Regions from separate parts of the Homo sapiens genome. Here region 2 is linked to region 1. Evidence: fine-mapped expression QTL. A gene starts in region 1. The other region holds a variant in brackets. All regions are shown on one strand. Distances are from middle to middle. Region 1 holds the start of MYO16-AS1 (MYO16 antisense RNA 1). Region 2 holds the start of LINC03061 (long intergenic non-protein coding RNA 3061).

Evidence for each region.
Region 2: its variant is fine-mapped to the expression of MYO16-AS1 in whole blood (INTERVAL, PIP above 0.99). The same link has a PIP of 0.9 or more in neutrophils.

Annotation. Positions count from the first base shown.
Region 1 is chr13:109,163,692-109,171,691 of GRCh38, reverse strand. MYO16-AS1 (MYO16 antisense RNA 1) reads left to right here and starts at 4,389. Exons shown (of 3, transcript NR_047700.1): 1 at 4,389-4,673; 2 at 4,982-5,056; 3 at 7,601-7,787. MYO16 (myosin XVI) reads right to left here. Exons shown (of 35, transcript NM_001198950.3): 33 at 6,633-6,791.
Region 2 is chr13:109,257,763-109,273,982 of GRCh38, reverse strand. LINC03061 (long intergenic non-protein coding RNA 3061) reads right to left here and starts at 8,496. Exons shown (of 2, transcript NR_185883.1): 1 at 8,316-8,496; 2 at 2,908-6,372. It overlaps LOC130494219 (a long non-coding RNA gene), which reads right to left and starts at 1,780. Exons shown (of 2, transcript NR_185888.1): 1 at 1,564-1,780. RefSeq lists enhancers at 2,508-3,236, 5,754-6,712. The variant G/A (reference allele first, on the strand shown) is at 7,040.

The DNA of each region.
Region 1 (8,000 bases):
TTTGTTTGATAAAGCTAAAATGTTCTAACACTAAAAACTGCTCTCTAATCTAATGATAAATAACCACAAGTCCAGGGAATAATTAAATATACAAAAAAAAGATCCAAGTCTGCGCTCGCATCAGTAAAAGGATGGCAATTAAAGTAAGTGATAGCTATAATTACGCACACATAACTATATTTCAACAAATGAACAAACAGATAATTATTTCTGGGAAGCAGAGGTAGCATGCAGATACTGGCATTCAAAAGAGAAATGTTTCCTAGAAAATAACACTGTTTCTGATTCAATTAGAACTTTAAGTTATTTTAAACATTTATTTTCATCTTGTGCCCTTATTTAGAAAGTGCATTGGCTGCACTTTGTAAGTTATGAACCTGTACTAATAATTGCTTTAAGAGTTATCATGCTCATGTATACATCACATTCTGCACATGTGTAATGTTTGTTCAATTTCTATAATACTGACGAGGCAGTTTTTCTGACTCTGCCCTCTGTATGGGATTTACTGGTTCCTCCGTAACAAACAACATTGTTTCAATCAGCAAATGCTTACTCAGGGCCTAAGTATAAAGGGTATTGTGCTGGATGTTTTAAAAATCATGGGGAAAGTTCCAGGCCCCCAGAAATTCATGGCGCTCACAAGAGTAGATCAGCATAAATGTGTCAAGTTGCTTTGAAAGATTGAATTTCCAATTGAAATAATTTTCCTTTTGCACGCATAACTCTTGAGATTTTCAAGTGGTTTTTACTTAATGACAGCATAGAACCAACTTTATTTTAAAAATTGTAAGTGTGTTAAGGGAGAACACAGAAATCTGTGTTGCAGGCTTTGGCCGTACACACTATGTGTTACATGCTGAAGTTTAGAACCCTGATACTCCTAAAGAATTTATATTATTAATTTCATGGATCCTATTTCACAAACATCTCCATTTTGGTCTAGAGGGTTTCTGCTTGTTTCCTTGGTTTTTGGTTATGTTTTGATATTTAGAGTATGACTTGCCGTTTTTATTATTATTATTATTAAGTTTTTTAGGATCATTTCCGAAGCTGTAGTTTTTGCCTTTTGCCTCAAAACACAGAAAACTTAAATATTTTGGTGAAGAGAAGTTCCCTTTCTCCATCTCTTTCTTCCTCCTTTTTTTTTTAAATTGCAGAATTGTAACAACCACACAAATAAAATAAAGAAATAGAACACTGGCAGCTCTGCGGAAGCTCCTGTAGTCATCTCTCCAAATCGCTACTGGCCTTCCCCTCCAAATGAAATTGCCATCCTCACTTTGTGGCAGTCCGTTCTCCGAGCACCTCTTCCTTTTCAGGCGGGTCTGTAATTCTAGAGTGTGTGTAGTAGTATTGCCCTGGAGTCTTCAGTTACATTTCTCTAGTTACTAATGAGGTTGGACTCCATTAAAATTGTTTTTCTAAGTGGTATTCACATATTCTGTCCAATTTTCTTTTCAGCTGTCTTTTGTTTTTAATTTAAATAAACGTTGAATATTAGCCTTTGTTGGGTAAATGTGTTAAAAATATTTTCTCCCTATTTATGTTTTTTTTTTTCTTTTTTCTTTATGGTTAAAACTTTTGTGTCTTGCTTAACAAGCCCTTCTTTCCTTTTATGAAGTAAGAAAGATACTCTCCTATTGTTTCTTCTATCCATTTTATGATTTGACATTTGACATACAGATCTATAATCTATCAGGAATTGTTGTGTGTATAGCATTAGGCAGAGTCGAGTTTCACTGTTTGCTCCACATGGATAGCAATCAATTATTCTTCCCCAGTGCTCTCACATGCCAATTTTGTCATAAATTAAGTGGCTAATTATGCAAGCTGGAGTAATATTATTTTCTTTCTCCTTCCTTCCTATTCTCTGAAAGCGTGTACGTGACATTGGAGTTATTTAATCCTTAGAATTTTGGAAACATTTAGTGGAGAAACCATCTGATTCTGGAATTTTCCTTGTAGGAAGGCATTCAATTACAAATTCCATTAATTTAACATTTACGGTGTTATTTAGCTTTCCTACTTCTTTTGTCCATTTTCGTTAGTTCTTTTTTTTTTAAGAATGTATTTGTTTATGTAAATTTGTAAATTTATCTTGGTGTAAAACTGTTTGTAATATTCTCTTACTATTTTTAATTTCAGCCAGATCTGTATTGATGTCCCCTTTTCAATCTAAAATCTGTTATTTGTGCCAATTTTCTCTATTTCTCTATCCCCTTGCAAGAAAATTTTCAATCTTATTGTTTTCAAAGATAATTTTTTAAAAGATAAACAACTTTCTCTTTCCTTCCTTTCTATCCCTTCACATTATTTTATTTGTTTTATATTTCAATAACTTATGTTCTTATTATCACTATCATATCTTTCCTTCCATTTTCATAGTATTTAGTTTTTGTTCTGTTTCTAATTTCTAGACCCTTTTAACACTCATCGTATTTGTTCTCTTGTGATGCAAAGGTTTGAAGCCATACATTTCCATTTCTTAAGAGATCTTTTGCAGTAACATGGATGGAACTGGAGGCCATTATCTTAGGTGAAATAACTAAGACACAGAAAGAAAAATGCTACATGTTCTCACTTATAAGTGGGAGCTAAATAACGTGTACACTTGGGCACAGAGTGTGGAATAATAGACACTGGAGACTCAGAAGGGTGGCAAGGTGGGAGGATGGGATGGAATGAAGCATATGAAACGACTTAATCAGGACAATATATACTATTCAGTTGATGTGGACACTAAAAGCCCAGCCATGGCCACGATGCCATACAGCCACATATTGACCATACCGACACTGTACCCGAGCCCCTTCCACTCATACACAAAAGACATTAGACATGTCCTAAAAGTTCTGTTGTCATATTTGCATTGTCATTAGTTAAAATATTTTGCTTTTTAATTTATTTTGTGATTTCTTCTTGAATACATTGATTACTTAGAGATTTTATTTTATCTTATTTTTTTAGACAAAGTCTGGCTCTGTCACCCAGGCTGGAGTGCAGTGGCGCGATCAGGGCTCACTGCAAACTCCGCCTCCTGGGTTCAAGCAATTCTCCTACCTCAGCTTTCCGAGTCGCCGGGATTAAAGGCATATACCACCAAGCCCAGCTGATTTTTGTATTTTTAGTAGAGATGGGGGTTTCACCATGTTGGCCAGGCTGGTCTCGAACTCCTGACCTCAGGTGATCTGCCTGCCTCGGCCTCCCAAAGTGCTGGGATTGCAGGCGTGAGCCACCGCGCCTGGCCTAGAGATGTAATTTTTGACGTTCAAATATATGAGCACTGTTTTTGCTGCTTTTTAATATTTGCACATTGTATCTTTTTCTTTTCTATCCCTTTACATTTACTCTTTCAGAATCCTTATGTTTTACTGTTTTCAGAAAACTTAGTTTTTAAAATATTCTGCTAATCATTTTTCATATAAGTTTACATTAAATAAGCCTTTTAAAGTTTATTATAATTAAATAAAGTTTATTTTCACATGTGTTTTCATATCTACTGTCTCAGAACTTTCTCCTTGCCCTATTTTTCCTATTTTATCCCCTTTTTGCATCTTTTGAGTTGACTTTTTATGATTTTATTTTTCTCTCTTTACTAGTTTGGATATTATCTACCCCACTAATATTCTTTCAGGGGTTACCTTTGAGGTTACAACTGGCAAGGTAGGTTTATCAGTGTATAATATTAAATATTATTTTACCCCTCCAAATTTTACTGCCTTTTTAGTTATTCTTTATTCTTTCCTTTATCTCTAAGCATTCTGAGTCTGTCAGTGTTTAATTCCTTTCATTTTTATTTTTTTTCCTAAAAATATCCTTAACTCCCTTTCATTATTACAGGAATTTTTGGGGGGCAGTTATTTTATTTGAGCATGTTAACTATGTTATTTCATTGTCTTTGGACTTCAGTTGCTACTTTTCGAAGATAGTACATATTTTTACCTCTAACTGCTTTTAAAATTAATTCTCGGTCTTTATTTTATAGGTGTTTTACTATGATACACCTAGGAAAGTTTTATGTATCCTACTTAGGCTTTGCAAAGGTTTCTGTTTCATTTTTACAAACGTTGGATTGATTATGGTGTAATTTAGAGACAGTGAGATTCACCTTTTTTAGACATACACATCTGTGCATCTGCAGACATGAGCACTCCAGGTTGTCTATAACACCACATGTCCTTCTGAACTTCATCTCCTGCCATTACGCCCAGCCTCCAGCAACCACTCAGCTGTTTTCTGTCTCCAGCTTTGCTTTTCCCCAAATGTTACATAAGCAGGATCACACTTAGTCTTTTGATTTTTTTTTTTTAACCTCAACACAATGCTTTAGCCATCCCTTTTTTTTATGATGCTCATTATAGTTGATCACTCTTATTTATTGCAGGCTTCATCCATGTGCTAGTTCAGCCTGTGAGATGCTGGTGAGCCCACCTCCAGGCACTCACGGACTCCCCACCCATTGAGTGTGGCCTGGATTTAGTGACTCAATCAAACGTGACAGAGTGCTGGGGTGTCATTTTCAAGACTGGGTTATGTGAAGACTGCAGCCTCCATCTGGGGTGCTCTCTCTTGGATTGCTTGCTCAGGGATGTGGGGAGAGCTGCTGTGCTGGGAGGCTGCCCATGTGAGTTGACTTGGATGTGAACCTTCTGTGGCCTGCCAATAGCCACGTGAGTGACCTTGAAAATGGATCAGCCTTCACTCAAGTCTCAAGATGACTGTGGTCTTGGCTGACAGCTTGATTGCTGTCTCATGGGGGACCTTAAACCAAAGGCACCCTGCTAAGCCACACACAGCTTCCTGGCCCACAGAAACTATGAAATAATAACCATTTCTTATATAAGCCTCCAAGTTTTGGGAGTAATATTTTGCACAGTGATGGATCACTAATACAAGCCAGTCATCAGTTGAAAGACACTGAATTTATTTCCAGTTTTATGTGATTATGAATAATGTCACCATATGCATTTGCATACAGGTGTTTGTGTGGACACTGCTGTCATTTCTCTTGGGAAGATACTGAGGAGTCAGATTGCTGGATCCCGTGAAGAATGTATGTTGAATGTTATAAAAATCTGCCAACTTAAATCTGTTTCCTGGTGCTCTTTCGTCAGCATTGGGAGATGCTCTAACATTTCTCACCAAGTCTTTCTTCTGCTCATGCGCTCCCTCTTCTTTCCCTAAGACTTCAATCATCCTCCTCATTGCCCTTTATATCTCTAAACCATTGTCTGGAGTTTCCATTCTTCCCTTTTGCTTCAATCTGTTTCATTCTGGGGATTTTCTGAGTTATCTTCCACTTCTCCAGTTATTTTTTATTTGTTTTGTTTTTAAACAACTATATCTAATTAAATTTAACTTTATCCTCTGTTGTACTCAATTTTATTACTGCATTTTCCAATTTCAGAATTTCCATTTGACGATTTCCTTATAGTTTCCTATTTCTGCTGAAATTCTCGTTGTTTTATTTCGTGGGGGGCTGAGTAAACATACTTATTTTAAGGCATGTGTCTTTGAATTCCAACCTTTTGAATCCCTGTGGACATATTGCAATTGGCTGCCGTCTCTGCTTTTAATTTTTTATCTTATTTTGTGTGCTCCTATGCCTGGTTATTTCTAACTGTGTTGGACTTTGCATTTGAAAAATGGTTTCTATGAATGTTTTGAAGCCTAGGATGCTATTACTGCCCTTTGGGGAAAATGTACACGTGTTTCTCCCAGGTACCTGTAGGCCTGGTTACATCTGGGCAACTCAACATGGTTCTTGGTTCTGGTTCACTCTGACTCTTGGGAAGAACACTTGAAGGCCCCACCCCAAGGCCTTGGTGGGGCCACGACTCAGTTTCTTGCCCTGTAATTTGAGAAGGCAGTCAGAAGCACAACTTGACTTCTTAGCTGCCTTCTCTGAACAATGTGGGTACCCTTATGTCCCCATGAGCCAAGCTTCAAGTGTGGGCTTCCTTGCTTCGGCTCACCTTGCACCCCACTCCCAGGTCTTCAACTGCTTCCCAGCATTTCAGCATCATGATGGTTCTCCCACGCCTCTAATTAGACTAAACAAACATGCTTTTCCCAGCCCTGCGGGAGGCCCTCAGGAATAGTTGGTCTGAGTCTTCCCATCAGTTATTCCCAGACGCCTTTGTCTTCTTTTATTTGTGAGAGAAAATACTTGCGTGATCCTCAGCTTTTGTACCTGCAATCAAGCCACTTTCTAAATGTGGCACTCATTGATGTACTTAAAATACCTGAAGCCAGTCTGGCACTTATCATTTCTTTAATATTATTTTCCTTCACATTTCTTAGTTTCCAGAATAATTTTTTAATTAAAAATATTGGTAGAGAATCTATTGCCTTCTTCTGCTCAGTATAAGACTAATTTTGGACCAGTTCTTTTAGATTAACACTCCATAAAATTTCGGAAAAGTCAACAAGGAGTGAATAGAATTCCAATTCTTTAACTGAAGCAATCATATGCTGACAATAATACTTGCAGGGGAGTTTCATGGTTTATATTCTATTTTCCAGTTCTTAACCCTACTTCATTTTCATATTTTAAATCCATTCCTCCCAGAAAGTTGATACAGCCTAAAACTTTTGTACATTTACTTCTGAGTTTAAAAAGTGCTTACCATTTGAGATGGAATTTCCATTTTCAGCAGTTATAGCACTAGATAGTGAATTAGATAACTGAATTCCATGGTTATTTGCATTTCTGTCTTGAGTCTCGGAAGTAATTTCTGACGTACTAGGGTCATCTCGGCTACTTATGTTCATGTTAGTTTCAAAACCTAAAATAAATTTTAGAAAACATAATTATTTTCTGATAACATGTACTGAATATACTGAATAAAACATTTGGAGAAAATAATAAAACATCAAATCAAACATTCATGACATTTAAAATAATAATAATCTTTAATAAAATTTGTAGCCTATATAATATTCACCAAATTTTGCCACAACAATGTCAAACAAAAAGGAAAATGTCAAGTGGTAACAATAATTTGTTGCATTCAAACATATTTATAAAGAATTTTTGATGTCATAGATCAAATAACTTGTCATTATAGTATTGCCTGTCATGAGAAAGCAATGAGTTCATGTTTCAGGAGTTTTCTGAATGATTACATTTAAATAAATTAAGGCAATCTTACAGCTTTGGAAAAAATAAGAAACACTTGAGTGATAAGAAACACTATAGTGATATTTTCAACATCACTATAAACACTTTTAGTGTCCATGTTGGAATACTGAACTTCAATACTCGACTTCCGCATTCTGCACACTAAGATAATTACTTAAATATGTAATGCTTGTCCTATGTTAAGTGTTTTGAGAGGTACGAACACGAAAGCCACTGTCCAAATTCCACTGAAGGGCCTGATGAAGACTTTTTAAAGTGATGTAATATTAATAAAGTGAAACACAGCAAATGCTTCTATTTGGAAAAATGTCCAATGGAGGTAGGTTTCCCCATGGTCACTGCATTACCCTTAGGCACAAAATCAGACTTTGCAAATCAGGCACAACTGCCATCAAGGGGCCAGACATCCCCCCATCACCACCTCTGCCAAGTTCCCTTTCTCTGACTTCACAGGTGCACCTGGGATTGGCTCTTGCTTCCTAAGGAACCTCAAAAAAGCTGCAACCTATTGGAGACTTTTGATTCAGCATCAAGGATATGCGTGAGACTTTGGTTCTTTTCTGTTGGGACACAGTTGATTCTGACTGTCTTAAAGTTAGGCTTTTCTAAAGATTTAGACTAATAAATTATTTGAATGGGACAACACACATCATTTGCTTTATTATACTTTAAATATGGCAGAACGGTGTATTACCACCCCAATCCCAATCACCGGTACCTCCATAGGCAGAGATGTTATCCTTATTTTGCTGAAGAAGGAATTAGGGTTACTCAGAGTCATGCAGTTGGAAAGAGATAGAATGGAACTTTAACCTGTATGTTCTGATTATTATTCAGTCTTTATTTTTCATTA
Region 2 (16,220 bases), 98 kb before region 1:
AGGCATTTCATTTGTCGTGCATTTAACTTTTGAGACATAATGAATAGTTTCCTAAAACTTTTCAAAGCTGAATGTTATGGAAGAAACATTCTCACCATAACTCTTAAAAATTGCATATCCTTACAAGTGAATACCATATCAAAATATGAAAATCATTTCAGATATTTATTAACTACTTAAAACTGACAAATGGTAAACAGAAATGTCATTTCTTTCATTAGTACAGAGAAAGCTCCCTCACTCCTCCCAAATATCTATTGTGATGAATTGGTTGATTATTTTAAACAATGTAGTTGCACAAATAGACATTAATGTGAATGATGATAGCATGTCACTTCTGAGGAATTGCATTTAGGAGGTACGTGTATGACAGCTTATGTGTAATCTTCAGGCTTGTATTTATGCCACAAGAAAATAGACTTTCTTCAATGATTCACTTCATCACAGGTGGCCTACCTACCTGAAAGACATCTTCATGCCAAAGTTGGCTGACTTTCTCATGCACAACGAACCCATATTCCCGTAGGAATTGAAGGATATGACTAATCAGTTGAAAACAGTTCTTTCATTTGTTTAACATGTCAAACTCAGGAACAAGCCCCAAGGTTCAAGTTTTACTGAAAGACTTTTACCATAGTGCTTTTTTGACATAGAAAAGAAAAACAGAACAATAAAAAAAAGAAAGTCAACAATTTTTTCAGTGAAGAGACTCACAGAGATTGAAGGTTCTCCGAAAACATTCAGGCCAATGCATCATTTTACATATGAGAAAACTGAAGTCCAGAGGTGACAAAATTTGACAAATCTACATAGCTAAAATGAAACCAAACAGACTCGTAATCCTACTTGGTGCTGGAGGGAGGCTGCAATCTGGGGAACTTGTTATCCAGACATCCCAGCTGGTAGAGTGTGCTACTACATAGATAAAGTCACTGTGGTTAGTGTCTAGCCTCAGCTTTAAAGTTCTGGAAAATCAAATTTGTCAATATTCCCATGGTTATTTAGAGTTAGGGGAACTAATATAAATTCCAAAATATAAATTTATAAAAGAAAATATTGTGACTTTTCTTGTTCTCTATGTAGAACATGCCCATAATCTTCCATAATCATCCTTATGACATGCAGCATCCTTACAATGACTGAGAAGTGGTAAATTTGGAAGCTTCTTAGGTGAGTGTCGAGAGGGCCGAGGAACAGAATAGTCTCGGGACATCTAGTCATCCCAATTTTACAATTGAGCTATAGGCTGATAATACCACTGTCTCTGTTCTCTAAATAAGCATGGCAAAATTGTGGTTTTCTGAATGTCGTTCATCAATAATCCAAGCTGGCTTTTTCACAGTTAGTGTCTAGATAAGGTTCAACAACATACATGTGGTTTCTCATGGTTGTATTTTATTTACATTCTATTCCCCCTTTCAGACCAATCAATCACCTTGATTGAAGTTCTGACTGTGGTCTTGCTAAGAATTCTTCTGGAATATGATCCCTTTTGCTTGTCTCTTCAGCTTGCTTGGCAACTTTCTACCCACTTTCCTCAAAATTCCGAGACATCAGACTCACCTCCAGTTCATCTCCAGTTCATGTGACAGCTGCTGTCCCTGCTGGTGAAGTGGCTGTGCTGTCTGGGGTATACACCCTGGGGTTCATCGTCACACACCAAGAATTCAGGACACAATCACATGTGGGTGGGTTAGGGAGTGGAAAATTTAATAGATAGAAGAAAGGAGAGAGGAGAGCAGCTCTTAGAGAGAGAGAGAGAGAGAGACATCTGAAAAGTGGGGAGGCAGTGGACCAAAACAGATATAATAAGTTGGAGAAGGCGGTGTCTGATTTACATAGGGCTCACAGACTGGTTCCATCAGGTATGACGTCTACATAGTGTGCGGGGGAAGGCTGGTTGCCCCACCCTAATCTAATTATGCAAATAGGCTTTCCAGTTGATCAGAGCCATCTTCTCTGCTCCTTACAATACACTTGGCTGGCAGGGAAGGGAAGATGGAGCCACCAGTTTGAAAATGTCTAGTCCTTAGTTCCTGCTGGCATTCACCTATGCAAGCTCCCAGCTTGCAGGCTGCTCTTTGTTAGAAAATGACTTGGGGCTGCTTTTCATTAAAAAGAAAAGCCTTACCCAGGACTCCCATGCCCTTGCTATCTGCCTAAGCAATTCCTTCTTAACTCCTATATCCCTGGGGAGATGGTAGGAGTGCTGCCCCTGTCTCCTTGCTTGAGAGGGGAACTGCCCCAGGGAACCACCGCCATCTTTCTCTATTGCCTGTGTGACTGCAGCATGGTGAGGTTCTAAGTCCCTGTACCCCTTTTGACTAAGGATGTTTTCCTTCTTCCCCATGATTTTGCTGGAGAATGAGAGGCAGAATTAAAACGTGCTGCATTTGTATTCAGATGTAAAGTTTGTGTCTCTGCAGAAAGCATTGCTTGTGTAGAGAAGGAAAGCATATTGTTTTAGTCCACAGGGGAGCTAGAAATGTGATCAGTCATCAGAATAAGGCAGATGTGTGCTAAATATTTCAGTCACTTATTAGCAGATAATTTATTGGCTTATTATCAAATGTAGCAAATATTTGCCATGTCTGCTTTGGGTTACTTTTTTTGGGAAGCCTTAGGCCGATTTTTGGCAACAGGGATTGAAAACATTTTACCACTTCCCTTACTGAAAAGGCCTTGTTGCCTGGGTGGGTGCCCAAGTCGTTGGTCTCACAGCTGAGGAAATCGACGATGCAGACACACCAAGGACGAGGTCAGAGCAGAAGCAGAAGTTTAACAGGTGAAAGAAAGAGAACAGTTCTCTGCTGCAGAGAGGGGTCCCAGAAAGGGTTGCCGTCCCACAGTAAAATGAAAGGGTTTTTTTCATGCGCGTCCGTGTGAAGAGACACCAAACAGGCTTTGTGTGAGCAACATGGCTGTTTATTTCACCTGGGGGCAGGCGGGCTGAGTCCGAAAAGAGAGTCAGCGAAGGGAGATAGGGGTGGGGCCGTTTTATAGGATTTGGGAAGGTAATGGAAAATTACAGTCAAAGGGGGTTGTTCTCTGGTGGGCAGGGGCGGGGGTCACAAGGTGCTCAGTGGGGGAGCTTCTGAGCCAGGAGAAGGAAATTCACAGGGTTAATCACTCAGTTAAGGTGGGGCAAGAACAAATCACCATGGTGGAATGTCATCAGTTAAGGCGGGGCAGGGCCTTTTCAGTTCTTTTGTGATTCTTCAGTTACTTCAGGCCATCTGGGCGTATACGTGCAAGTCACAGGGGATGCGATGGCTTGGCTTGGGCTCAGAGGCCTGACATTCCTGCCTTCTTATATTAATAAGAAAAATAAAACAAAATTGTGTTGAAGTGTTGGGGCGGTGAAAATTTTTGGGGGGTGGTATGGAGAGAGAATGGGCGATGTTTCTCAGGGCTGCTTCAAGCGGGATTAGGGGCGGCGTGGGAACCTAGAGTGGGAGAGATTAAGCTGAAGGGAGGTCTTGTGGTAAGGGGTGACATTGAGGGGGTTGTTAGAAGAAACATTTGTCATACAGAAAGATTGGTGATGGCCTGGATACGGTTTTGTATGAACTGAAAAACTAAATGGAATAAGAGAAGGAGAAAAACAGGTATAAAAGGACTAAGAATTGGGAGGATCTAGGACATCTAATTAGAGAATGCCTAAGGAGGTTCAGCATAGTCCTTCCAGCGAAGATTATTTATTTACTTCAAGAGTTAAGAGTGGCAGTTTGGGGATAGCATGAGGAGATATCAGCCATGATGGCTTGGAGAAACAGTGTAAACTGGCAGTGTAAACAAGAGCAGGGCATGTATGAGTAGTTGAGAACGGAGAATAGGAGTATGACTAGACGGAAAATAGTAGGGATGACAAGTTTTTTTGGGGGCACAGTCTAAGTTGGTCTGGTGTCTGGGATGAGACTGGGGCCTAATAAAAAGGAGCTTAAATGGACTGTACCTTGTAGCATTCTGAGGACAGGTCTGACTTCTGAGAAGGGAAAGTGGTAAAAGTATTGTCCAGTTCTTTTTAAGTTGGTGGCTGAGCTTGGTGAGGTGTGTTTTTAAAAGACCTTTAGTCCGTTCTACTTTTCTTGAAGACAGAGGACTATAAGGGATATAAACTGAAAAACTGCTTGGCTAATTTGACTAATAAAGCCTGGTCTGTTATCAGACTGTATAGAGGTGGGAAGGCTAAACTGAGGAATTATGTCTGACAGAAGGGAAGAAATGACTGCGGTGGCCTTCTCAGACCCTGTAGGAAAGGCCTCTACCTATCTAGTGAAAATGTCTACTTAGACTAAGAGGTATTTTAGTTTTTGTGACTCGGGGCATGTGGAGTAAAGCTAATTTGCCAGTCCTGGGCGGGGGCAAATCCTCGAGCTTGATGTGTAGGGAAGGGAGGGGCCTGAATGATCCTTGAGGAGTAGCAGAATAGCAGATAGAATAGCAGATGGAACACTGAGAAGTTATTTCCTTGAGGATAGATTTCTACAATGGAAAGGAAATGAGAGGTTCTAAGAGATGGGCTAGTGGCTTGTAATATGGGGAAATGGGGTGAATGTCAGGTGGATCAGAGAGATGCAGTCATGGGGATCAGGTGTGGTATCAGGAATAATGTGGGAGGCCAGATTGAAGTCTGGGCCAGGAACAATGGTAATTGTGGGACTTAACAAAGAATGAGTACAGCTGAAGGAGCCGGGGAGCAGAAAGTATATGCGTCAGGTATGAGGAAGAAAATAGATTTTGGAAGTTATGAGAAATGTAGAGAGTGAGTTGAACATAGTTTGTGATTTTTAGGGCCTCTAAAATTATTAAAGCAGCGGCAGCTGCTGCATGCAGACATGAGGGCTAGGCTAAAACAGTAAGGTCAAGTTGTTTGGACAGAAAGGCTACAGGGTGGGGTCCTGGCTCTTGTGTAAGAATTCTGACCGCACTAACCATGCCTAGGAAGGAAAGGAGTTGTTGTTTTGTAAGGGATTGAGGTTTGGGAGATTAATCAGACACCATCAGCAGGGAGAGCACCTGTGTTTTTGTGAAGAATTATGCCGAGGTAGGTAACGGATGGAGAAGAAATTTGAGCTTTGGAGGGGGATACCCGATATCCTTTGGAGAATAAATGCTGAAGGAGCAGAAGTATGTCTTGTTGAGAAGATTCAAAGGAGGGGCTACAAAGAAGAAGGTCATCAATATATTGAATAAGGTGAGAAGTGGAGGGGTGGAAAGAAAGTAGATCATGAGAAAGAGCTTGGCTGAAGTAATGAGGGCTGTCCCTGGAACCTTGCGGCAGCACAGCCCAGGTAAGCTGCTGAGCCTAATGGGTGTCAGGGTCAGTCTAAGTGAAGGCAAAGAGAGGCTGAGATGAAGAGTGCAAAGGAATAGTAAAGAAAGCATGTTTGAGATCCAGAACAGAATAATGGGTAGTAGAGGGAGGTATTGAGGATAGGAGAGTATATGGGTTTGGCACCACGGGGTGGATAGGCAAAACAATTTGGTTGATAAGGCACAGATTCTGAACTAAGTTGTAAGCCTTGTCTGGTTTTAGGACAGGTAAAACGGGGGAATTGTAAGGAGAGTTTATAGGCTTTAAAAGGCCATGCTGTAGCAGGTGAGTGATAACAGGCTTTAATCCTTTCAAAGCATGCTGTGGGATGGGATATTGGCATTGAGTCGGGTAAGCGTGATTAGGTTTTAATGAGATGGTAAGGGGTGCATGATCGGTCGCCAAGGAGGGAGTAGAGGTATCTTATACTTGTGGGTTAAGGTGGGGGAATACAAGAGGAGGACGCAAAGGAGGCTTTGGATTGGGAAGAAGGGCAGCAATGAGATGCAGCTGTAGTCCAGGAATAGTCAGGGAAGCAGATAATTTGGTTAAAATATCTCGGCCTGATAAGGGAACTGGGCAGGTGGAGATAACTAAAAAAGAGTGCATAAAAGAGTGTTGTTCAAGTTGGCACCAGAGTTGGGGAGTTTTAAGAGGTTTAGAAGCCTGGCTGTCAATACCCACAACAGTTATGGAGGCAAGGGAAACAGGCCCTTGAAAAGAAGGTAATGTGGAGTGGGTAGCCTCCATATTGATTAAGAAGGGGACAGACTTACCCTCCACTGTGAGAGTTACCTAAAGCTCGGTGTCCATGGTGGTCTACAGGGCTTCTGAGGCGATCAGGCAGCGTCAGTCTTCAGCCACTAAGCCAAGAAGGAGTCAGTCAGAGAGCCTTGGGCCAGAGTTCCAGGGGCGCTGGGAGTGGCTGCCAGGTGAGTTGAACAGTCCGATTTCCAGTGGGGTCCCGCACAGATGGGACATGGCTTAGGAGGAATCCCTGGGCTGCAGGCATTCCTTGCCCTGGTGGTCAGATTTCTGGCACTTGCAGCAAGCTCCTGGGGGAGGAGGTTCTGGAGGAATGTCTGGCCACTGCGGTTCAGGCATTTGGAAGTTGTTGTGTGCTGGAGATGTGGCTGGGGTTTGTCTCACAGTGGAGGCAAGGAATTGCAACTTCCTTTTTTTTATTATTGTACACCTTGAAGGTGAGGTTAATTAAGTCCTGTTGTGGGGTTTGAGGGCCAGATTCTAATTTTTGGAGTTTTATTTAATGTCGGGAGCAGATTGGGTAATAAAATGTGTATTGAGAATAAGATGGCCTTTTGACCTTTTAGGGTCTAGGGCTGTAAAGCATCTCAGGGTTGCTGCCGAACGAGACATGAACTGGGCTGGGTTTTTATATTTGATGAAAAAGAGCCTAAACGCTTCTGATTTGGGATAAAGAAAAAGGAGCATTAACCTTGACTATGCCTTTGGCTCCAGCCACCTTTTTAAGAGTAAATTGCTGGGCAGGTGGGGGAGGGCTAGTCACAGAACGAAACTGTAAGCCAGACCAGGTGTGAGGAGGGGAGGCGATAAAAAGATTACAGGGTGGAGGAGCGGAGGCTGAGGAAGAATTGGGACCTAGCTTGGCCTGGCAAGGAGGGGAGAGGTCAGATGGGTCTGTAGAAAAGGAAGATTAGAAAGACTCAGTGACGCTTGGGGTTGGGACTGAGGGGACAGGCG[G/A]GAGGGAAAGAAGGAAGATTCAGAATGAGTTGCACTGGGCACAGAGACTAGGAAGGGACTGATGTGTAAAAGAATGCCTGGATGTCAGGCACCTCAGACCATTTGCCCATTTTATGACAAGAATTATTTAGATCTTGTAGGATGGAAAAATTGAAAGTGCCGTTTTCCGGCTATTTGGAACTACTGTAGAGTTTGTATTGGGGTCAAGAGGCATTGCAGAAGAAAATGAGACACTTAGATTTTAGGTCAGGTGAGAGTTGAAGAGGTTTTAAGTTCTTAAGAATACAGGCTAAGGGAGAAGAAGGAGGAATGGAAGGTGGAAGCTTGCCCATAGTGAAGGAGGCAAGCCCAGAGAAAAGAGTAGAGACACGGAGAAGGGGTGGGGGTTTCTTGCCCTCCAGAAAAGCAGAGAAAGGGTTGGGGCACAGAAATAAGGGATTGGGGCACAGAGATAAGAGGTCAGGGTGTGGAAATAAGGGATTGGGGGTTCTTGCCCCCTAGAAAAGTGGGAAGGGGGGTTGGGGCATGGAAATAAGGGATTGGGGCACAGAGATAAGAGGTTGGGGTGTGGAAATAAGGGATTGGGTCACAGAAATAAGAGGTCGGGGTGTGGAAATAAGGGATTGGGGGTTCTTGCCCCCTAGAAAAGCGGGACTTGCCACTAAGGGTGAAGGAGAAGGGGTTGAGGGGTACTTTCCCCTCCCCCAGAAAAGTGGGACTTGCCACTAAGGGTGAAGGAGAAGGGGTTGAGGGGTTCTTGCCCCTGCCCCAGAAAATCAGAGAAGGGGTAGAGACAAGAAGAGAAGGGGTTGGGGTACTTGCCCCTTCCCCAGAAAAGCAGGGAAGGGGTAGAGACACAGAGAGAAGGGGTTGGGGTACTTGCCCCTTCCCCAGAAAAGCAGAGAACGGGTAGAGACACAGAGAGAAGGGGTTGGGGTACTTTCCCCTTCCCCAGAAAAGCGGGACTTGCCGCTAAGGGTGAAGGACCAAGGCAGGCATCCCTGCATGGTCTGACACCCTTGAAACGTGGGTGAATAATCAGAGAGGTGTCCCTGCAATGATTAAACAGCAAGGGAAGGCTGCCTTCCCAGTCCGTGACCAGCGCTGGAGTTTTGGGTCCACAGATAAAACGTGTCTCCTTTGTCTCTACCAGAAAATGAAAGGAATTGAAACTAAGAGAAGGGAGAGATTGAAGTGTGGCGCCAAGATTGAAAGGAGAAAGAGGTTGAGGGATAGTGAGGGAGGTTGGAGAAGAGAGTAAAAAGAGGCGGCTTACTGGATTTAAAATTGGTGAGATGTTTCTTGGGCTGGTTGGTCTGAGGACCTAAGGTCGTAGGTGGATCTTTCTCATGGAGCAAAGAGCAGGAGGACGGGGGATTGATCTCCTAAGGGAGGTCCCCCGATCCGAGCCACGGCATCAAAGTTCACTCGAGTCCATGTGAAGAGACACCAAACAGGCTTTGTGTGAGCAACATGGCTGTTTATTTCACCTGGGGGCAGGCGGGCTGAGTCCGAAAAGAGAGTCAGCGAAGGGAGATGGGGTGGGGCCGTTTTATAGGATTTGGGAAGGTAATGGAAAATTACAGTCAAAGGGGGTTGTTCTCTGGTGGGCAGGGGCGGGGGTCACAAGGTGCTCAGTGGGGGAGCTGCTGAGCCAGGAGAAGGAAATTCACAGGGTTAATCACTCAGTTAAGGTGGGGCAAGAACAAATCACCATGGTGGAATGTCATCAGTTAAGGCGGGGCAGGGCCTTTTCAGTTCTTTTGTGATTCTTCAGTTACTTCAGGCCATCTGGGCGTATACGTGCAAGTCACAGGGGATGCGATGGCTTGGCTTGGGCTCAGAGGCCTGACAGTTTTTATAAGTGACCTAGTGGGGAGGCAGTATTTTACCTACATAGGGTGTGAAAAAACAGTTAAGACCAGGTGTACCATCAGCATAGAGTGCGAATCTCTGGCAGCCCCCATCCCAGCCTTTTATTATGGAGGCGGGTCCTTTGCCTGAGCTACTCCATGTTGCTTTCCTACTGTGCAGGTGCAAAAAAAAGAAAAAGAAAAAAAAAAGTGGGAGGCGGAGCCCTCATGGTGCACATGACTGGCCCCAGGTACCCCTTTCTAGTGCGGCAGCTCCCAGCTGCAAGCTTCCAGCTTCCTTATCTATGTTTGCAGCACAATCTTCCAGGCTGCTCTTTGTTAGGAGACACGTGTTTTCTTGGGCTGCTTTTTGTGAGAAAGGAAGTTCTACTGAGGAATTTTGACCTAGCTATCTGCCTAGCTATTCTCTTTTTACTTCCTCGCTCACTATGGGGTCCAGCCAAATCCAGTGGCATTGGGAATGGAAAGGAAGCAAGAATGGCAGATTATGTGGGAAGGTTTCCAATCAGCTAATTGGACTTAAGGGACAAGGGAGAAGTCAAAATAATGATGGAAATGATGGCCAAGGGAAGGGTCTTATTGTTAAAGAAAGCTCTGGGAAGGGAGATAATAGGTGTTTATAGCTATTTCCTGAGCAATCTCTGTTAGCAGGAAAATTCTCTGAAGCCATGTGAAGGGAGGCAGTTGCCAGTGAGGGGAGTTGGTGAGAAATGCCAAAGCCCCCTGGATTAGATGAAGAAATTGTATTCTCCACAAGTTATCTTTGAAAGATGACTTAGTGTACATGATTGGGAATTATATCTTGATAAGCCCCTTGGTTGGTTCTGGGAGTGATTCCTTCAAGGGGAACGCTTGGGAAATAATATATAATAGTTAAATATTCTGGTAACTTCATGGGCTTTATTCAGCTGAGTGGGCATATGAGTGTGGGGATATCAAGGGTTTAGGACAATAAGGTGATCAAAGCACTGACTCGGTGGTCTTTTAATTCCTCCATTCTGTTCTTCCCTGTTCAGTGCTTAGCTTCTCTTAATATACATTTCACAAATATATTTATTCTGAGGAACTAAATTATTAGCCTGACTAGGTGTTCAAATGTTTCCATATAGGCCTTTCTGTTCCTTTATCTGGGATTACAGGCATGAGCCACAACACACAGCTTAACCCCTGTGTGACTATCTAGTCCATAGAACTTCAGAAAGTACAACCAAATAGGGTGAAAGTTCAAGTCTTGCGTCCTCTATAATCCTATCTTGCACCCTGTCCCTCACCAAATATTTTGAAGCAAATCCCAGACATCATATCATTTCCTCCATAAATATTTCAATATACATCTCTGAAAGTTTAGACCTCTTTCAAAAGGTTAATTTCCATATGATTATCATACTTAAAAATTAAAAATTATTCCTTAGGCAGGGCACAGTGGCTCATGCCTGTAATCCCAGCACTTTGGGAGGCCAAGGCAGGTGGATCATGAGGTCAGGCATTTGAGACCAGCCTGGCCAACATAATGATACCCCACTCTACTAAAAATACAAAAAATTAGCCAGGTGTGGTGGTGGGTGCCTGTAATTCCCGTTACTAGGGAGGCTGAGGCAAGAGAATCGCTTGGACCAGGAAGGCAGAGGTTGCAGTGAGCTGAGATCTTGCCACTGCATGACAGTCTGGGCGACAGTGCAAGACTCTGTCTCAAAAAAAAAAAAAAAATTATTACTTAATACTATTTTTTTTTAAAGTTGAAGTCTTGCTTTGTTGCCCAAGTTAGAGTGCAGTGGGGGCACTCTTGGCTCACTGCAACCTCTGCTTCCCAGGTTCAAGTGATTCTCCTGTCTCAGCCTCCCAAGTAGATAGGATTATAGGTGTGCACCACACGGTTGGCTAATTTTTGTATTTTTGGTAGAAATGGGGTTTCACTATGTTGCTCAGGCTGGTTTTGAACTCCTGACCTCAAGTGATCCGCCTGCCTTGGCCTCCCAAAATGCTGCGATTACAGGCATGAACCACTAAGCCCAGCCCCTTAATACTATTACATATCTACTAAGTGTTCTAATTTTCCTGATTCTCTTTTCTTCTTTTACAATTTGCCTGACTCAGAAGTCCCAAAGAGATCTATACCTTGCAGTTGATTGATTTATCTTTTAAACCTCTTTTTTTTTTTTTTTTTTGAGATGGAGTCTCGCTCTGTTGCCCAGGCTGGAGTGCAGTGGCGCGATCTTGGCTCACTGCAAGCTCCACCTCCCGGGTTCACACCATTCTCCTGCCTCAGCCTCCCAAGTAGCTGGGACTACAGGTGCCTGCCACCACACCTGGCTAATTTTTTGTATTTTTAGTAGAGATGAGTTTTCACCATGTTAGCCAGGATGGTCTCGATCTCCTGAACTTGTGATCCACCTGCCTCTGCCTCCCAAAGTGCTGTGATTACAGGCATGAGCCACCGTGCCTGGCCTAAACCTCTTTTAAGATATAGAACTTGTTGGCTTTTTCCTTGCATTTTATTGGTCGAAGAAACAGGTTGTTTGTCCTAAAGAAATTTTTACAGTCCAGATTGTGTTGTGTAATTCCTTTGAAACCTGAATTTCTTATAAACTAGTAAACCTAAACTTTTAGTAGGATTTGGGTTTTATTTACTGTATTTTACTCTGTATTCAAAAATACTTGTAGGCAGAATTATATTTGTTATTAGGAGGTGTACATTGTCTAGCCATCTCTTTTCTTTGTAAAGGTAGATGACTAATCTGACTAAATACATAAAAAAAAGAGAGTTACAAAATGGTGATGTCTTAATGTGATCATTTCTTTTAAATTTATTGTCTGTAGTGTATCTACAAACAATGCCTTTCCATTGTATATTATATGTTTACTTTGAGGTAGAATTATTATAGGAAAAGCAATGTAAGTTCTTGGTTATATCCTCTTATCCACTAGTTTTCAAAACAATAAATTGTTTTCCTTTCACTCTCTGAAGATGATCACTGAAATTTGACTTAAGTATTTGATATGGTTTGGCTCTGTGTCACCAACCAAATCTTATCTTGAATTATAATAATCCCCACACATTGTGGGAGTGACCTTGTGGGAGTTAATTGAATCTTGGGGGCAAGTTTTTCCCATGCTCTTCTAGTGATAGTAAGTCTCATGACATCTGATGGTTTTATAAAGGGGAGTTCCCCTGCACATGCCCTCTTGCCTGCCACCAGGTAAGACGTGCCTTTGCTTCTCCTTTGCCTTCTGCCATGATTGTGAGGCCTTCTCAGCCATGTGCAACTGTGAGTCCATTAAACCTCTCTTCTTTATAAATAACCTCATCTTGGGTATGTCTTTATTAGGAGCATGAGAACAGACTATTACAGTATTATTATAAACACATGAATTTACATGCTTAATGTAATTTATTTCATTTGTTAATCTTATTTGTGGCCAAATTTGCCCTCCATTGGCTAATGAAAAACTCTTGAATGTGGCTGTTGAATTATTTGCTCACGATTTCAATAGACTTTGTTAGCTTCTTACTGTCTGGGAAGAACAGACATTTCAGACTCATCTTTAACATTTTCTTTCTCAAGCTGAAAGCAATTATTTCACCAAGGAATTCTGGTTCCTTGCAGTGGGAAATCATATTTAGAGACCATGATCTTTGTGCTAGAGGTGCTAATTGCTACCGAGTTAGTCACTGTTTCTAGACTTTTCTAGAGGACAAAGCTAAGAAACACACACGCACATGCCCACACACAATGTATTCATAAAGATGATATACAATGTGAATTCATATTGATTACTAATTTTAAATACAATTTAAGACTACAGGTTATTATTCATCTCATCAACCTTACATCCGTATCTCATTCCTTTCATGGTGAAAACGCCAATCCTCAATGATAATAGTTCATTTGATTTATCTCACGATAATTACTCATTACATACAGAAAATAATGACATATTCTCAGAATAGTTATATCACTTCTGTCACAAATAATGTGATTATTGAAAAGAGTTGAAGATTGTTCTTCAGGTCTTTAGTATCTAACCCAATAGGGGGTATAGTAAATCAATATTCTTTAAAGTTACTTGAAATTTTTGTCTTTTTGTGAATATGCTACTAACCTGATAAACAGGTTCATTATTTTTTATTTGCTTTTGATTTTAAGAATGGCCTTTGTAATTTTAATTTTATTTAATATAATGTTAAGCATTTACATGAGTTATTTGTCAAATGTACAAAACAATGTATACTCAGGGAAGACTTGCTTCTATTCCTTTCTCTTGTATGTATTTAACCCTCTGTAGGTACAAATTTTTTAAGTTATTAAAATAAAACATGTTTTCTGTAGATATATATGTATATATACACACATACTCTTCTTAGTTAAATATTCTACACATTGAAGCTTCTAGAAGTATTCATCTTTTATTTGTACAGCTCTATAGTACTCTGTTGTGAGGACATAGCATAGTTTATTGAAATATTGGAAAACATTGTTCTTGCACCCTTTCTATTAGTCATAATGCTGCAAGGAATATAGTTGCACACCTCTATTTTTCATATTTTTGCCATGTACTTTTAGGATAGATCTCTGGAAATGAGATTGCTGGGTCAAAGATAAATGCTTAAGTCATCCTGTTACACATTTCCAAATTCCCTTTTTATAAGATAAGGTCATTTTGTATTTCTATCAATGTATGAGATTGTCTGTTTTTCTCCAGCTATTTTGCTTTAGTTTCCTCTTATTTTGCTAGTGTAGAGGAGGAATATGGCATCACAAAATTAGGGAGAATAAGTATCACAATATGTTGAATTGAGAAAACTTCTCATTCTAACAGAACCTATAAATCCTCAATTGTCTCTTGAGAAGAAGACAATACGTGCAGAAAGCATCACTAAAGATTTTAACTTTTTCATCGTCAGACTCTGAAAGTCACTCGTTAGAAGTCTGATCTAGCAATATCTCACGTGATTAATTAGTAATCTGGTATCAGCCAGTAAAGGCAAAAGCTACTTGCCTTCACTTACAAAATATGTCTTGCAGGTAAAAACATTTTAGTTATTTTGTATGCTAAGTCTGAATTCATTTTTTCTCATGTATGTTGTTAAGATGCCTGGAACAGTCATTTGTTGAGGTTATGTTTGGCCAGGTAGAGCTATTCATTTATTTTAAGATGTGTTTCTGAAGTATGGCTGTCATCTGATTGGTGTACCTACTCAAATTTCTCATAATGCAAACTGTTCCTTCCTGGTTGGCATTCCTCAAAGTTCACAAAATGACAACCAATTTCGCAAAAGGGTCATGTTCTAGATTCAAGTAGGACACATTCCACTAGAAAACAAAGTAAATTGTTTTTAAAGGAGGCTTGATAAAGAAATAAAATTTCCAGGTAATATGACATACAAGTGTTATATTCACATAACATTACACTTTTAAGCATTTGGAAAATGGAGACTGGTTCTTCCAGTCATTCATTCATTTATTTGTTATTTATTTATTTATTCAGCAAGTATTTTTTTAAGTATTTTTAAGTCCCAGTTATGGGCCAGTGTTATGGGAATTGTGTTAACTGAAGATACAAGACTAACCAAAGTAGACACAGTTATTAGCCACATAGAGTCAAACATTAAGAAATACTATTGAGATTAAGTCATAAATAACAAAATAGCAATAATTTGGATGAAGATCTCTGCACAAGTCACTGTTCAGTCTACCTCTGTCCCTTTGTTGAAGAGTTGCTTATATGTGCTGGCTCATTACTTTCTTTCATTTATGCCTAAATCCACTCAAAATTCTTTTCCTAAGATCTCCAGTGGGCTTCTGGTTCTGGCTAAAATGTAGTAACTGGTACTGAACTAGTCCTCCGGACATAAAGAGCTAGAGAAACTGAAAAAGAAATGGTTTTTAGACATTAAACAAAAGGCAGCATAGGAATATAATCCATGGCAGGAAAAAACTAATGTGGTGGGCCCTGGATGCCTTGGCTTTCTGCCTGGATAGTGCTTCTGGACCAAGGCCCCTGAAGAGGCAGCCTAAGCAGAACTTGGAGTCTCACTGAGATGAGGTGATAGAGATCAAAGTTCAGAAAGACTGAGAATAAAGGTACTTGCACAGGAAATGCACAGTTGAAATTTTTGGGGCAGGGTACTAGAGAGGAAGGGCCAAGCAGAGAAGGAGCTTCAGAATCTACTCAGAGTTTTCCCTGAGTCTTTGTCTGAATAGTAACCTGAACTTGTGTAGGGTACAGAACAACTATCAAGAAAAGATAACTGTCATGGAACTACAAACACAAACCACTGGAGCTCATGTAGAGCTGGGAGACATTTGGGCTCCAGCTAGCCTGAATGGAAAGACCAGGGCATTCAGTAGAGGCTCCACAAAGGCCACATCTTAAGTGCAGGGCTCACCTAGCCCCAGAGCAAAAGCTATTCTAAACCTTCTCTAACAAAGCTTAAAAACATCCTAAGAAAGACTGTAAAGGTCAAACATCCTCAAAGAGATTAATCTCCTTCCAGAACAAAGTACAGAGTATTTTAAAGGAAGACAGGAATCCAGACATTGAACAACAGTGGTGATGTCAAATATCCAATTAAAATTACTAGACATGTGGGGAAGCAAGCAAATGTGACCCTACCAAGAAAAAAAATCAGTTGATAGAAACAGAGCAGTGACTTTCTAGTTACCAAAGCTAATGATTTTAATTTAGTTGTGATCATCCTATTTGATCCATTTGGGAGGTACTTTGCTGATGATTACTCTTCCCCTCTCTTGGCATCTGTAACACAGAACATCCCTAGTTCCCTGACATTTCTACAAACCCACCTTCTCACTTCTTTATTGGCTCTTGTGTCTGCCTTATTTCTTTTTTTCTTTTTTTGAGATGAAGTCTCATTCTGTCACCCAGGCTGGAGTGCGGTGGTGTGATCTCGGCTCACTGCAAGCTCCACCTCCTGGGTTCACACCATTCTCCTGCCTCAGCTTCCTGAGTAGCCAGGACTACAGGTGCCTGCCACCACGCCTGGCTAATTTTTTGTATTTTTAGTAGAGATGGGGTTTCACTGTGTTAGCCAGGTTGGTCTCGATCTCCTGAACCTCATGATCCACCCACCTCGGCCTCCCAAAGTGCTGGGGTTACAGGTGTGACCCACTGCGCCCGGCCGTCTGCCTTATTTCTAAGTATTAGTGTTCCTCATGGCTTTTCTTTTCTTTTACTTCTTTCTGACTTATATTACAAGTTCTCTGAAGAGTCTCATTTATTCCCATGACTTGAATTAAACATTTTCTTTTTATAAGTTTTTGCTTGTATAATAAAAATATTTTAGTAAT